Linked DNA regions of Homo sapiens. Changing the gene in region 1 together with any one later gene gives a genetic interaction. Each region holds a gene or a part of one and is shown on either strand. Other genes may lie near its edges.

The links. A genetic interaction does not mean that the proteins touch.
Region 2: changes in PHF1 (region 1) and PTP4A3 together harm fitness less than expected from each alone (positive genetic interaction), as found in Homo sapiens cells (one study listed by BioGRID).

What each region holds. Positions count from the first base shown.
Region 1 is NC_000006.12:33,406,063-33,414,013, forward strand, and holds the start of PHF1 (PHD finger protein 1), read left to right. Parts: upstream 1-4,951; 5' UTR 4,952-5,153; intron 5,154-6,185; coding exon of another isoform or gene 6,186-6,201; coding exon 6,202-6,360; intron 6,361-6,445; coding exon 6,446-6,527; intron 6,528-6,635; coding exon 6,636-6,731; intron 6,732-7,133; coding exon 7,134-7,234; intron 7,235-7,346; coding exon 7,347-7,495; intron 7,496-7,673; coding exon 7,674-7,769; intron 7,770-7,951. Other genes in the region: kinesin-like protein KIFC1, read left to right, coding at 134-424, 530-603, 738-813, 3,584-3,628. UniProt on the Homo sapiens protein: Polycomb group (PcG) that specifically binds histone H3 trimethylated at 'Lys-36' (H3K36me3) and recruits the PRC2 complex. Involved in DNA damage response and is recruited at double-strand breaks (DSBs).
Region 2 is NC_000008.11:141,416,019-141,423,038, forward strand, and holds part of PTP4A3 (protein tyrosine phosphatase type IVA 3), read left to right. Parts: intron 1-107; exon of another isoform or gene 108-1,339; intron 1,340-1,890; exon of another isoform or gene 1,891-2,013; intron 2,014-2,370; exon of another isoform or gene 2,371-5,369; 5' UTR 5,370-6,222; coding exon 6,223-6,327; intron 6,328-7,020. UniProt on the Homo sapiens protein: Protein tyrosine phosphatase which stimulates progression from G1 into S phase during mitosis. Enhances cell proliferation, cell motility and invasive activity, and promotes cancer metastasis.

The DNA.
Region 1 (7,951 bases):
TGTGCATCTTATTTTGTTTCTTGACAGGCTAGAAAGCTTCAAGAGGGTGGGGGTGGGCTCTTATTCATTTCCATACATATTACTATGTACTGACTTCTGCCTGCCTTTTTGCCCCTTCTGCTCCCATCCCCAGGTGGACGCCCTGCTTCATCTGGCCCGCCAGAATCGGGCTGTGGCCCGCACAGCCCAGAATGAACGGTCATCACGCAGCCACAGTGTATTCCAGCTACAGATTTCTGGGGAGCACTCCAGCCGAGGCCTGCAGTGTGGGGCCCCCCTCAGTCTTGTGGACCTGGCCGGGAGTGAGCGACTTGACCCCGGCTTAGCCCTCGGCCCCGGGGAGCGGGAACGCCTTCGGGAAACACAGGCCATTAACAGCAGCCTGTCCACGCTGGGGCTGGTTATCATGGCCCTGAGCAACAAGGTGGGAATGGGAGTGGGGTGAGATACGGGACCTGGGGGACAGTTGGGGTTGGCTGTGCAGAACCCTGCCTATTCCTAAACATCTGTCCCCACCTCAATCATCTAGGAGTCCCACGTGCCTTACCGGAACAGCAAACTGACCTACCTGCTGCAGAACTCTCTGGGTGGTAGTGCTAAGATGTGAGTGAAAGGGACAGATGGAAGGGGTCAGGTAGGAACTGTGTTGGGGTGAGGGGTAGAAAGGGGAACAGTGGAGACCTGTCCAGGCTCTGCTGGCCCCTAATGCTGGGGTTGGGCACATTGTCTTTTCATAGGCTCATGTTTGTGAACATTTCTCCACTGGAAGAGAACGTCTCCGAGTCCCTCAACTCTCTACGCTTTGCCTCCAAGGTGCGATTACCACCCGTCAGCCTTGTCAGGACCCGTGGGTGGTTGTAGGCTTCTCCATTCCAATCCCTTTTGTCTTCTAGGGCAGGGAGCACATTTGTGCAGAAAGGTTTTGCAGGTATCTGAGGCACTGCTCACCTGGTTCCATTTTTAATTATTAGCTTTTGAGTTAAGTTTTTTAAAAAACGGGTGATTAATTTAACCTGAGAAAGCTGATTAAAAAAAAAAGAAAAGGTGACTAAAAGGTCTAAACTGGTTGGGCGTAGTAGCTCATGCCTATAATCCGAACACTTCGGGAGGCCAAGGCAGGAGGATTGCTTGAGCCCAGGAGTTTAAAATCAGTCTGGGCAACATAGTGAGACCCTGTCTCTACAAAAAATAGGAAAATTAGCTGGGTGTAATGGCTCACACCTGTAGTTCCAGCTACTCAGGAGGCTGAGGTGGGAGGATCACCTGAACCTGGGAGGTGGAGGCTGCAGTGAGCCGTGATCCTACCACTGCACTTCAGCCTGGGTGACAGAGTAAGACCTTGTCTCAAAAAACCAACACACAAAAAATCCCTAAGATTCCTCCCTATCAGCATACAGAGATCATTATTTTTAGGTCTGCCTAGACTCCACTATGTAGCTGCACCAAAATTTATCCACCAGTTCCCTCTACTGGACACTTGGATTGTTTCCACACTTTTTTAGTCACAAACAAGGCCACGTTGACTAACTTTGTACATACATCATTTTGTATTTTTCAGTTACATCTAACTAGGGAAATAGTCCTTGAAATGGGATTACTGGATCAAAGACTTAGAGGTTTTTCAGACTATTCCAAATAGTGTGAATTCAGACTCCAAACCTCATGAGGGTCAGCCAGTGGCTATATGAATTCTCACTAATGAGAATTCCTTCCACTAGAATCTCCTTCCACTAGTGTTAAGCAAGTCAGAAAGTTTCCTTACTGTCTGCCTCCACAGTAATTTTTTTCTCTGGTACACCCTCCTCCTGCGCGTATAGCCCTTTGATGGGCTCTGGCTTTATTTGAGGTCTGATCAGGTCTGTCCTGCTGTGCGCTTGGGCCTCCTCCCAGTCAGCACTGATTGTTGCTGTGGAGTAGCCAGCACCTGCACCCTGATCTGGTATTCTACTTTGATGAGGGTTTCCCTCACTATCTTGCAAGTTCAATTTTAGAGGGTGGTGATGTTTTTTCTAACTTTTTATTAATGTTATACCAATGTAACATCCAACAACATGAACTTTAATATCCTCTAATACCCAGTTTATGTTAAATTTCACCCAACTGTCTCAGAAGTGTCTTTTATACATAATAGGTTTGTTCAAATCAGGATCCAGGCAAGGGCCACCCACTTGGTTGAAATGTCTCAAGTTCCACAACCCTATCCCACACTGCCACTATTATGTCGTTTGTTGAAGGTCATTTGTCCTATAGAATATACTATTCTGGATTTTGGCTGGTTGCTTCCTCTTTCCCCCATACTTTCACTTATTTATCATATTTGGGTGTTGTCAACCTGACCCATCCATTTACAAGCTCCTTATTGACTTTTTCACCTAGTGATTTTATCCAGCAGTGACCATACCTGGATCTTTATTTCATTAAGGGGTTTCTAAATGGGGATTTTTCTAATCTTAGTTGTTCTGCATTGGTTAGTCACGATTCTTTTATGAAGACATTTGCCTTGCCATCTACTTGGTTTCTCTGAAATTCAATTCATACAGGAAAAACAAGATAAATGCTGAATTATTTATTGATTTTCAGTATTGAGTTGATATCCTAGCAGCTTCCAAAGGTGACCAATGAATGTTTATCTGAGGGTTATTTTTATTTTTATTTTTTTTGAGACAGGGACTTGCTCTGTTGCCCAGACTGGAATTCAGTGGCTCAATCATAGCTCATTGTAGCCACCAAAAGTGTTGGGATTATAGGCGTGAGCCACCCAGCCCGGCCACAGTCGTTCTTCTTTCTGATGCTCAAATTGCCCCATCTTTAGCCAATAGGAACCTCCTGGCCGGGCGCGGTGGCTCATGCCTGTAACCCCAGCACTTTGGGAGGCTGAGGTGGGTGGATCACGAGGTCAGGAGATCGAGACCATCCTAACACGGTGAAACCCCGTCTCTACTAAAAATACAAAAAATTCACCGGGCGTGGTGGCGGGCGCCTGTAGTCTCAGCTACTTTGGGAGTCTGAGGCAGAATGGCTTGAACCCGGGAGGTGGAGCTTGCAGTGAGCCGAGATCGCGCCACTGCACTCCAGCCTGGGCGACAGAGCAAGACTCCGTCTCAACAACAACAACAAAAAAAAGAGCCTCCTTCAGATTGGTGCCAGTGTCCTTTAGACAGAACTCTAGTAGTCTTTTCAGATTCAACTTGTACATTTCCTTCCCCAGACTTCAACTGATCCATTTTCTAAGGAGTCCTAGTTCCTAAATGGGTGTTATTACTATTTTATCTCGGTTTAAGTGTTTTACAGTGGGAGAGGTTGGAGGTCTCTAGTACAGGGTATTGCTGGAAATGAAAGCCTCCTTTCTCTGCTCCTGTATTTTCTTCTGGGGCTTCCATCTCTTCTCAAGCCTTTTCACCTCCTCCAAACCTAGTGTGCAGAGGAGAACAAACCATAACTGGCACCAGCCTGAACCAGCCTTTGGAGGCCTTATTTCGGTATTTCTGAGGGCAGCCCTAGCATTGGAGGATGGGAGATCTTGGGAAAAATGTTGTATTGGTTACGCTGCAAACTTTTATCCTGTCTAACCCCCTGCCCCCAGGTGAACCAGTGTGTTATTGGTACTGCTCAGGCCAACAGGAAGTGAAGACGGATCCAGATCTGTGTGTGTGTGTGTGTGTGTGTGTGTGTGTGTGTGTGTGTGTGTGTGTCCCTATGTCTATGTATCGGGTGAGGGGTGGGAGGGTTGCTGGAGGGTGCTTTATTGGGTGGAGGGCACCATGTCCCAGGGCTATCAAATAAAGAATAGTTTGGTTTTTTTTTTAAATAAAGGTTTTATTAGCATTTGCCCAAGAAGGCAGATACTTTCATATCTGTAAAAGTGGGAGCTGTGATCTGTACCCTCTGCCAAACGTTTACGTGGGAGGCGGGAGCGGGGGCTGAGGGCTTCGTCTTTTCTCCCCTCTGCTATCACCGGTTCTGGACCTTGGCCTGGATCATCTTCCCCTCTGCTAATACCCCCTACCCCGTCCGTCACATCAGGGAGGTGTGCCCTCTAGCTATCCACGCCCCCTCCTTGGTCACTAGTTATAGGTAACTTTCACCCTTCCGCCGGCCACCCCAGCCCCAGGGAAGAACGTTCCTTTGGTGGGTGTCGGCAAATGGGGACCGGACCCCAGAGTCCAGAGGCGGGGCTAGCGCGCGCTCCCAAACTGTTGGCTCTTTCCTCCCGTCCCGCCCTTTCCCTGCCTTTCCGTTCGAACGGCTGGGGCTCTGCCCGCTCGCTGCCCATTGGCTGGCTCTCGGTGGCGTCACCGCCTTGGGTCCTCGCGCCCTTCGTCTGCGCCAGCCCTGGAAGCACGGGGCGGGACGTCCACGGGAAGCGGCGCGCACGCCCGCCGACTCCCTCGCGCCAACCGCCGACGGCCGCCGCCCGGTGAAGGAGGGGCTCAGTCCTCCCAGGTGCCGCGCGCAGGAGGGGACACGCGTGCGCAAAAGGGCGGTGGGTGGGGCGCGACTCGTCACGGGGAGGGCGGGGCGCGCGAGGGAGGAGGGCGTGGTGGGGGCATCGAGAAGGGTGAATGGAGGGCGGGGCTGTGAACTGGGGCCGGGGGGCGGGACTTGGAGTGACCATGGGGGGTGGGGCAGCTAACGGATGTGGCATGGGGCGGGGGACCAGGCCGGAGGCGGGCTGCCGGGAGGGGGGATTCCCTCGTGCCCCAAGGGCGAATCTCAGGTCGGAGGAAGGGGCTGAGGGGATTCCCTCTCCCACCGGGTCCGACTCTTCGCTCCCCAAGCCGCGGAGGGCCAGCCTCTTCTTCGGCGCCCTCCAGGCCTGTTGGAGGTGAGGGAGGTGGGGTGAGGTGGTGCCCGCCCCCCCCTCCGGCTCCTCCTTTCCCCCAGTCCTCCCCTCCCACCACCCTCCCCCCCAACCGGTCCGTCCCTCCCCTCCCTCCCTCCCCCCCGCCGCCTCCTCCTCCTGCCGCTGCCGCTGCTTTGGCTGCTGCGTCATACGCCCCAGAGCCGCCGGGACGGAGGGGCTGGGCCTGGGGACCCCCCGGCCTCCGCCTGCACGCCCCCCCACGCCCGGACGTGCCCTCTCCGCGCGGGGGACTCGCCTAGGTCTCCTACGTCTGCCCCTGCCCGGCTCCCGGCGGCCCCAGCTGTCACCGGTAAGGAGGCGGCAGGAGGCGCTGGTGGGGGGCAGGGAGCCGGGGGTCGGCGCGGGGCGCGGGCGGGAGAGCCTCGCCGCCTTGGCCTCGGGTCCGGGCTGGGCCGACACAAGTCCCTTCTCGGACTTGCCGTCCTGGGGAGTAGAGACCGGGACTGGGACACGCCCCCCTCCCGGGGCACTCAGAGAAGTTGTCTAACCCGGGGGCAGGGAGCCCCGAATTTGAGGGTGACCTGACATAACCTGGCACCAGGATGATTGTTCTTAATGAGACGCGCAGGCCTGGGGAGACAGCCGTTTCTGCTCTGGAAAACATCTCCAGAAAAGGTCCCAAAACACGTCTCTGGGCAACAGGACACCCTAATTATGATACCTCTAAACTGAGTAGCCTTTGCTTCTACAACCATAATTTCTCCTAAAATTTCAAGGCCAGTATATAATATCCCAGGAGAGCTCTGGAAGCTGGGAAACTAGCAACTAGGTTTGGGGTCGGGGGGAGGGCTGTTAGTTACCGAGAGGAGAGCCAGTCACTAGAGTTGGAAGAGGACTCAAAAAGCTGGTGATGGGTGCCCAGTGGTTTCCTATCAAGGTGTCTCAGGGATTTGGAGATGGGGGCACAGATACTTCATTCTTGATGGCAAAATAGGCAAAGAAAATGGGGAGGCTGGCCGGGCCCGGTGGCTCACGCCTGTAATCCCAGCACTTTGGGAAGCTGAGGTGGGTGGATCATGAGGTCAGGAGTTCGAGACCAGTTTGGCCAACATGGCCAACACCTCATCTCTACTAAAAATACAAAAATTAGCCAGGCATGGTGGCATGCGCCTGTAATCCCACCTACTTGGGAGACTGAGGCAGGAGAATTGCCTGAACCCGGGAGGTGGAGGTTGCAGTGAGCCAAGATTGTGCCACTGCACTCTGGCCTGGGCGACAGAGCAAAACTCCATCTCAGGAAAAAAAAAAAAAAAAGAAAAAGAAAATGGGGAAGGTTTCTCAGCATTCATAACCTTCTCCTCCCCATTTCTTTTCTGGCTAGGCCCCCCCAGGATGCAATGGCGCAGCCCCCCCGGCTGAGCCGCTCTGGTGCCTCCTCACTTTGGGACCCAGCTTCTCCTGCTCCCACCTCTGGCCCCAGGCCTCGGCTTTGGGAGGGTCAAGATGTGCTGGCCAGATGGACTGATGGGCTGCTATACTTGGGTACCATCAAAAAGGTAAGACCTTCTACCTCTGACCTTCTTCCTAGTTCCCTTATCTAATTCTGGTTCCCATTTCATCCTGTTTGCTCACCCATTCCAGGTGGACAGTGCTAGGGAGGTGTGTCTGGTCCAGTTTGAGGATGATTCGCAGTTTCTGGTTCTATGGAAAGACATTAGCCCTGGTAAGACTCTAGAGACCTGAGATTGCACATCCCATGGAAAACAAACCTGGCCTAGAGGGGCAGAAAGAGACTTAAAGGCAGGCCCTGTGACACTGTGTTCTCTCACAGCTGCCCTCCCTGGAGAGGAACTCCTCTGTTGTGTCTGTCGCTCTGAGACTGTGGTCCCTGGGAACCGGCTGGTCAGCTGTGAGAAGTGTCGCCATGGTGAGAGGGCAGGTCACCTGAATGGTCCAGCTTGCTCTTCCCTCCAGGATGGTCTCTATATCACCTGTCCTGGCCTTAGTCCCCAAGCCACTGCTCTGGCCAGGCTGCTTAGCCTTATCTTAGTCCTCATCCGCTTTCAGCCCAGGGAGAAGCAGCCATGGAAAGGGGTGGTATAACCTTTGCAGGCAGAAGATGGTTTAAATGCATCCTTTTCTAACCATATGACCTCGGACAAGTCCCTTAACCTCTAGGAGCCTCAGTTCCCTGACTTGTAAAATAAGGATAATGCACCCCCTCATCAAGACCATGGTCAGGGATTAAATGAGATGGGTAAAGACTATTCCTGTCCCAATACCAAGCACACACAGGTATGCAATAAGTGGTCTACTATTATCACTGCAGCTTATCACCAGGACTGCCATGTTCCCAGGGCTCCAGCCCCTGGAGAGGGAGAGGGCACATCCTGGGTATGCCGCCAGTGTGTCTTTGCGATCGCCACCAAGGTAAAGGCACTTCCCTGTTACCCTTCCTGTGGGAGCCTCCCATCCACAGCCTCTCCCAAGCCTTTTCCTCTCCCCACCCCTCTGAAGCCACCCACCTGTCCTGTCTCTGCAGAGGGGAGGTGCCCTGAAGAAGGGCCCCTATGCCCGGGCCATGCTGGGTATGAAGCTTTCTCTGCCATATGGACTGAAGGGGCTGGACTGGGATGCTGGACATCTGAGCAACCGACAGCAGAGTTACTGTTACTGTGGTGGCCCTGGGGAGTGAGTAATGAGAGGGGAGCAGACTGTGGAATGAATGATGTGGTGGTGGATCCCAGGAAATGAAGGAAAAAGAACAGGATGAGGGTAGCACTCAGGGGGATAGGAGGTAAGTTTAGGGTTTGGGACAGTTATGGGGAAGGGGGTTTCTGGAGGCCAGAAGTCCTGTGTTCCCCCTCAGGTGGAACCTGAAAATGCTGCAGTGCCGGAGCTGCCTGCAGTGGTTCCATGAGGCCTGCACCCAGTGTCTGAGCAAGCCCCTCCTCTATGGGGACAGGTGAGACCAAGGCAGACTCTCTAGGAGCCAAGGATGCCCTCTTTCTTCGTGTTCCACCCTCAGTTCTCCCACGCCCTTCTCCACTCCAGTCTCTTCCCAACCTCTGCAGCGTTACCTCACCTGTTTGCCCCGTCCTTGCTTGTGAGTCTTCCAGGGGATGGCACAGTTTTCCTGTGTAAGTG
Region 2 (7,020 bases), on another chromosome or scaffold:
GCTGTGCCAGCTGCAGCAGGTGCCTCCCAGGCCCGGCCAGAGGGCCCCAGGCAAGGGGGTGGAGCCCGGGTGGGGGTGATGAGGATGCTGGGGTCCACTTTTGTAGCGCCAGAGGCGACGGGCTCTGTCTGGTTGTAGCATCACAGAGCTTGATGGGAACTTTCACTCTGAGACCCCTTTTATGGATAAGAAAACTGAGGCTGGGGGGCAGGAGCAGCTTACCCCAGAGGTCCTCTCTCCCAGAGGGCTAGGGTGGGGATAAGCAGGGTCTCGGGGGCAGCAAGACCCAGCTCCAAATGTGGTTTTTCTGCCTTCTGGCTGTGTGACTCAGAAGGGTTGCTCAGCTTCTCTGTGCTGTTATGGTTTGTCAGTGCAGTGTGGCAGGTGTGTGTCTTGCTTGTGGAATGCAGTGTCTAGCCTGGTATCCTTAGAAAGTGGCTGAGGTTGGAGATTGGTGGGGCAGAGTCCCTGAAGCTGACCCATTCTTGCCTTCAACCTTCAGGGAGACGCTGCTGGAAGTGGTGAGCTGAGAGCACTGGGCAGGAGTCAGAGCCTAGCGTCTCCCTGTGGAGCTGGGTGCACCCACGTGGGTGGGTGCCCTTGCCAGGGAGCTCACACCCTTGGGGGTCCATGAGCTGGCAGGCAGGGCTACCTGGCTTGGTGTGCCCTTGGGTGGAGGCTCCCATGGGGCCCTTCAGACTGGGCACAGCCCTCCTGTCCTCTGCTCCCCAGCCTGCTTGCCCACCTGGAGGTGGGAGGAGGCGAGGGTTGCCGGCACAGCTGGGCCAGGCTGATGGTGATGTTTTCTGGAAGTGTGGGTGGGGAGAGCCTGGCAGGGGGAGGGGGGGTCGTGCTCTCAGCTGGGCCCCTTGATGACCTCAGATTGCAGGGACCAGGTTGTTTGAGAGCTGCAAGCAGGGCCACACCTCCAGGGACCCTGTGCTGGGGGTACCACCCTTGCCGCTCCACCCTGCTCTGAGGGCCCTGGGTGGCCAGGGCGGGCACAGAGTGGGTGGTGATGCCAGCTGCATCCCTGGGGTTCATAGTCTGGGGAGCACATGAGTTCCCGGCACAATGCTCCCAGGAGGCAGAGCCAGGAGTCGCAGGGAGGCGTTTGCTTGAGAGGGTCTGGGAGGGCTTCCTGGAAGAGGGGGCATCAGTGCCGAGCCTCAGAGTTTGTGGAGCCCGCCGCCTGGCTGAATCCTGCCTGCCGGTGTTACCTCAGGGTGTTCCTCGTTGCAGTGCCTCAGTTTCCTCACCAGTACGCTAGGAGAGACCAGCGTAGCCAGCCACAGCGGGGTCGTGAGGATTAAGTGAGGGGACAGCAGTGTCTGGCACGGTGGGTGCTGAGTAAATTCATGGAGGAGTGCCCGGGCGGTGGGGCTGGTGGGCTGGGCAGGGGGTCTGAACTGGAGGGACTCGGGCGCCCTCCTCCTCAGGGTGCAGGACAGCACCTGCACGGCGGGGCCGCATTTCCATTTCCAAAGCTGGGCGCGCTCTGTCCAGGCCTCCCCACCAGGAGCGCGGCCCGGCGGCTCCTGCCCTCCGGACCCCCAGCCCACAGGCCCGTGCAGCCCCATGAGGGGGCCAGGGGGAGCTCCGAGGTTCTAGGGAGGGCGCGCACCGGGAGAGGGCGCCGGGCCGGCCGGCGGGAGGAAGGAGGGGTCCCGGGCGGCAGCGCCCCCGGCCCTCGCCGCGCCCCGCACTTCCCTTTCCTGGCTGGGCTTCCTCTTCCCCGCGCCCGCCCTGCGCGGCCCCTTTGTTTCCCGGGCAGGGCGCGGCTATATTTAGGCGGCAGGTGTGGGAGCCCCCGGCAGCCGGGTCGCCCGCCGGTCACGCCCCCCACGTGACGCCCGGGCGCTATAAATAGCCGCAGGCGGCGGTGGCGGCAGCGCCTGGAGCCGGCTCCGCGGCGGAGGGGCGGCGCCCCGACCCAGGGCCAGCACCGTGGGCACCGCCAGGCCGGCGCGTATGGAGGCGGTGGGACGCCTGCGGCGCGGGTGAGCCTGGCAGGTGGGGACGCGGCGGACCCAGGCCTTCCGGGACCCCAGCCCCGCCGGGGAGGAGGTGGCGCCCTCCGGAGGGCTGGGCGGGAGCCCCGCTGGCACCCAGGGAGGGGGCCGCGCCCCTTACCACGACCCCACCCGCGACTGGTTCCCCGGGACTCCCCAGAGCGCCCGCCTCAGCCCTGACCGCGGCGCAGCTTACTTCTCCTGAGACCCGCTGAGCCCCGGGCCTCCAGCCTCCTCCCCCAAAATCACAGGGGGCGCCCTGTCTGAAGCGGGGGCTGGATTCAAACTTCTTAAGCTGCTGTGCCATCGGGAAGGAGGGCGGTAGCCTCCCTGAACCTCGATTTCCTCTTCTGTGCAGGGCGCTGCGTGTTGTTCCTGCCTCCTAGATTTGAGCCAGAGAGAACCCAGTTAACTGGACGCCTGGTGTGGCCCTGGTGGAGAATGTTCTCCCCTCTCCCTGGCTTGTTTCCTCATCTCGCAAACAGGGACAAGGATGGACTCTCCCTTAAAGGGTCTTGAGAAATAGCTGAGGGCTCTGGGCCTGCTGGCCCGAGGAGGCTGAGCCAGATCTTGGGAAGGGTTCTGCAGGGCTTGGTAGCAGGAGGGAAGGAGGTAGCAGGAGGGAAAGAGGGGCCACGGCTGCCAGTGGGTCCCCGTGCTGTGGGCCGCGGGCCTGGTGGGGGTGGTAGCGACTCAGGACACATGGAGGCAGGGGCAACCTGTCCCCATTTCGCAGATGGGAAGCCTGAGGCTTTGGCTTCAGGGAGTTCTCAGTGCCCATCCCTGGGGATCCTTAACCCTTGCTCTCAGGGCCCTACCTGGTGACCTCACTGGGGGCGTGTGGTTATGGAGGGGTTTTCTCCCTTGGGGGACAGCCACCAGGCAGGGCAGAGCCACATAGTGGTGCCAGGGCATCATTGCTTTGCTCTCACCTGGGGCAGGGGTAGGGGCCCTAGGCTGCAGAGACAAGTGGGATGTGTGGCAAGACCCTGGTCCAGCCTCTCCCTGGACCCCTAACCCCATTCTAGCCTGGGCTGTGACCCCTGAGCGTAGCCCAGGCTAACCCCCTGATTCCGGCAGATGTGTGGCATCCTTAGGCCTTCAGTGGGGGGTAGTGTGGGGTGGTTCGGAGCCTCCTCCCTCCCAGTAGCCTGCAGCCCTGAGGACCTGTGCAGGGCCACTAGGCAGCAGGTCCAGGCCACGTGCTGGTGCCTGTGGGGTCTTCCTGGGTCCCTGGCAGCTGTAGGTGTGAGGGGTTGGTCAGCCCCTCAGGGAGAGGCCCAATACTGTGGTTTCTCTGGTGCTTTTCTTCCTTTCTTTCTGTAAACATGAGCTCGGCTCCCGTGTGCACACACACAGGGACATCCTGCTGCCCCAAGAGGGACCCAGGTGTTTGTGTGCTGTTAGCACGTGGTGGCTTCCCTCACCCACACTCAGAGCCTGTGCTCCCTCCAGTCGGGCAAGGTGGGGACTGGCGGGACCAGGGACAGTATCCTTGTCTCCACCTTTACCTCCTTCTGGGGGTCCCACCCCACCACCGGTTTTTTTTTTTTTTTTTGAGACGGAGTTTTGCTCTTGTTGCCCAGGCTAGAGGGCAATGGAGCGATCTCGGCTCACTGCAACCTCTGCCTCCAGGGTTCAAGCGATTCTCCTGCCTCAGCCTCCCGAGTAGCTGGGATTACAGGCATGCACTTCCATGCCTGGCTCATTTTTTATTTTTTTATTTTTAGTAGAGATGGGGTTTCTCCATGTTGGTCAGGCTGGTCTTGAACTCCTGACCTCAGGTGATCCGCCCGCCTTGGCCTCCCAAAATGCTGGGATTACAGGAGTGAGCCACTGCGCCTGACACCCACCGCCCATTTTAACCTTCCCAGAACCATGCAGTGGACAGAGCCTGAGGTGTGGCGGCTGCTCTGAGCCCATGAGCACTGGCTGCCACCCAGGGTGTGGAGGGCAGGCAGGGAGGAGCCCACTGTCCCAGGTAGCCACCCTCTGAGTCCAGGGGCCCAGGCCTCAAGCCCTACCTGCACCTGGGCTGAAGCTCCAAGGGCCCAGCCTGCCTGGTGGGCAGCTGGGAAGGGGGTGCTGGGGCTGGGGCAGGGGCACAGGTGAGAGGGGGTGGGTTGGGGAATGGAGGGCTCTGCTGGGCGAGGGGCCCTGAAGTGCCTTTCCTTGGGTAGCAGGCAGTAGTGACAGGGCCGGGCTTGGGTTGAGTCTAGGGGGCTGGAGAGTCTGCTAACAGCTGGGTCACAGCCAGGGCCAGCAGTGCGGGGACCCCTCAGCAGCAGTGCCCAAATACAGCTTGGGTCACTTGTGTCACCCCTCATCGTGCTCATGGGGTAACAAAGAGGCCGGCACCTTGCTCAAGGCCTCCCAGCCCTTCCGTAGAGAGGGAAGGGGGCTGCGTGCTCCTGGAACCCCTTTGCCTGGGAGCTTTGGGGTCATGAGACCCAGAAAGGGAGAGAGGCAGGCGTGGAGGTGCCTTGGGTTGCTGTGGCCCCCCCTGCCGCCTCCCCTCTTCAGGGCCCTGTCATGGTGTGAACCCACTCCTGGCCACCTGTGCTGTCACCACCTTGGCATGTGTGCCTGATGGCTGGCCCATTGGCGTGTTCTGTCCCCGCCTCCCTGAGCTCCTGGAGGGGCAGAGCTGGCCTGTTTATCCCCGAGCCTGGCTGAGACCTGTGTGAGCAGTGGAGACACAGTGGCGGGGGGACACTGGTGGACAGGGGGCTGCTGACAGGCAGGAGACTTTCTGCAGAAAGCAAGAGGCGATTAGGGTGGCCCACGGCCGCGTGTGGGGCCAGGCCCCTCACCTCCCTGTGCTGGCAGCACTGACCGAGTGCCTGGGCCCCATTCCCTGAGGATGGGCCACCCAGAGACACCTGGGCTCAGATGTTCACAGTGGCTGAGAATCGGAAGAGGAGAGGGCAGCTGTCCTGGGGTGGAGTTTCCGCAGATCACAGCAGGTGGGCAGGGGCCAGGCTCAGGCTTCTTAGGAACTCGGCCTCTGTCCCCACAGAGGGATCTGTCATCTGTGTGCTGGGGTTCATCATGTCCTCGGGGGTGTGTGTGTCCCTGAAATCCCTGTCCCCTCTGTCCTCCGTCATGCCCTGCTGGCTGTGTGGTGGCTACCCTGTCGCCTCTGGGCCCTGGGTCAGTCCTGGCAGGAGCCGTGCTTCCTTGTGCTCCCATATAAGGAAATAGACCCAAAAGGGTCATTCTCTCAGCATGGTCAGGAGGAGGGCTCTGGGAGAGGTGTCGCCTGTGACTGTGGGCTCATGACAGGCATGAACCCCTTGTGGGAGGCGGGGCCCCCTGTGATCCCTTTCTATTCATTTCCTTCGTCTTTCCCCACAGATGCTGTGTGCTGTGGACCCACCTGGGGTTCATGGAGTGGGCCACGGGGCCCAGCCCTAAGCACTGCTGCGCCCAGGGTCGCCGCGCCTCCTGCTGAGGGGTCCCCGTGCCACTGGCTCTCACCATTGCCCTCGCCTGCCGATGGCCTCTGCTGCCCAGCCTGGGGCCAGCTCTACCGCCTGAGCCCCCTGCCCCACTCCAGGACTCACCGTACCCCGATGGGGTAACGTGACACAGGCCCCACACGTCAGAGGCCGCTGTCCCCACGGCCACTGCCCGTGACCCCTGGCCCAAGGCAGCTGGAGTTGGTTCAGTTCAAGTTCATTCTTCCTCTGGCCCTTGGGGGCTTGGGGCCCACCTCTGAGTGAAGGGGGCTGTCTGCCCATCCACCAATGTGGAGAGGGCGCCCCCGGTGTGGGGTCCAGCTCTGGACACTGCTTGGCGGCCGGGTTCACTTTGAGTTTTTAAGTTTTCTTTGCTGAGCTTTTTTGGTTGTTCTTTTTATTTTTTGCCTCTTTATGACTATCCAGCTCTGAGAGACGGGAGTTTGGAGTTGCCCGCTTTACTTTGGTTGGGTTGGGGGGGGCGGCGGGCTGTTTTGTTCCTTTTCTTTTTTAAGAGTTGGGTTTTCTTTTTTAATTATCCAAACAGTGGGCAGCTTCCTCCCCCACACCCAAGTATTTGCACAATATTTGTGCGGGGTATGGGGGTGGGTTTTTAAATCTCGTTTCTCTTGGACAAGCACAGGGATCTCGTTCTCCTCATTTTTTGGGGGTGTGTGGGGACTTCTCAGGTCGTGTCCCCAGCCTTCTCTGCAGTCCCTTCTGCCCTGCCGGGCCCGTCGGGAGGCGCCATGGCTCGGATGAACCGCCCGGCCCCGGTGGAGGTGAGCTACAAACACATGCGCTTCCTCATCACCCACAACCCCACCAACGCCACGCTCAGCACCTTCATTGAGGTGAGTGGAGACGGAGGTGTGGCAGGCAGGTGGCCCAGGTGTCTGGGAAGCCCGGCTGAGCTGCCCTCAGGCCTCGCAAGAGGGGTCCCCAGCCCCGGCTGGCCAGACAGGGCTCACAGCCTTGGAACAAAGCCCAGTCGCCTGTTACAGGATCCTGGAGGAGGGAGATGGGGGTGCCCCGGGGGTTGGGGTTGAGGGTGTTGGGGGATCAACGGGGTCCCCTGGGAGGCCTGCAGGGGGCTGGCGTGTGATAGGAGGGACTCCACGCTGTGTGGATAGAGGCAGGGGGTGAGGCAGGGGGATACATGGACCAGGCTGTGCGTGCTCAGCCGTGGCCTGGGCTGGGGCCCTCCCGAGCCCTTTGCTGTCCCAGATGTTGCTGGGCTCTGGATGAGGCCTCAGGTTAGACCAGGCTGGACTAGGGGCTTCAGGGCCCAGATCTCTGTGTGAGGAGGGACTGAGCAAGGGTCAGCGCTGACCACAGGAGGGAGGGACCACTGTGCCCTGGAGAGGCAGCAGAGATACCTGCCGCTGGCAACCCTGGCAGATGGGACGAGATGCGTTTACAGAAGCTTTCTTGGGAGTGGAGTCTGGAGCGACCTGCATGGCCTCCTGGAGGAGCCTGGCCTCTGCAGAACGCCCTGCTGTTTGCAGGCCTGGGGCCGTTTGCAGCGTCTGCAGTTGTGTGCGGGG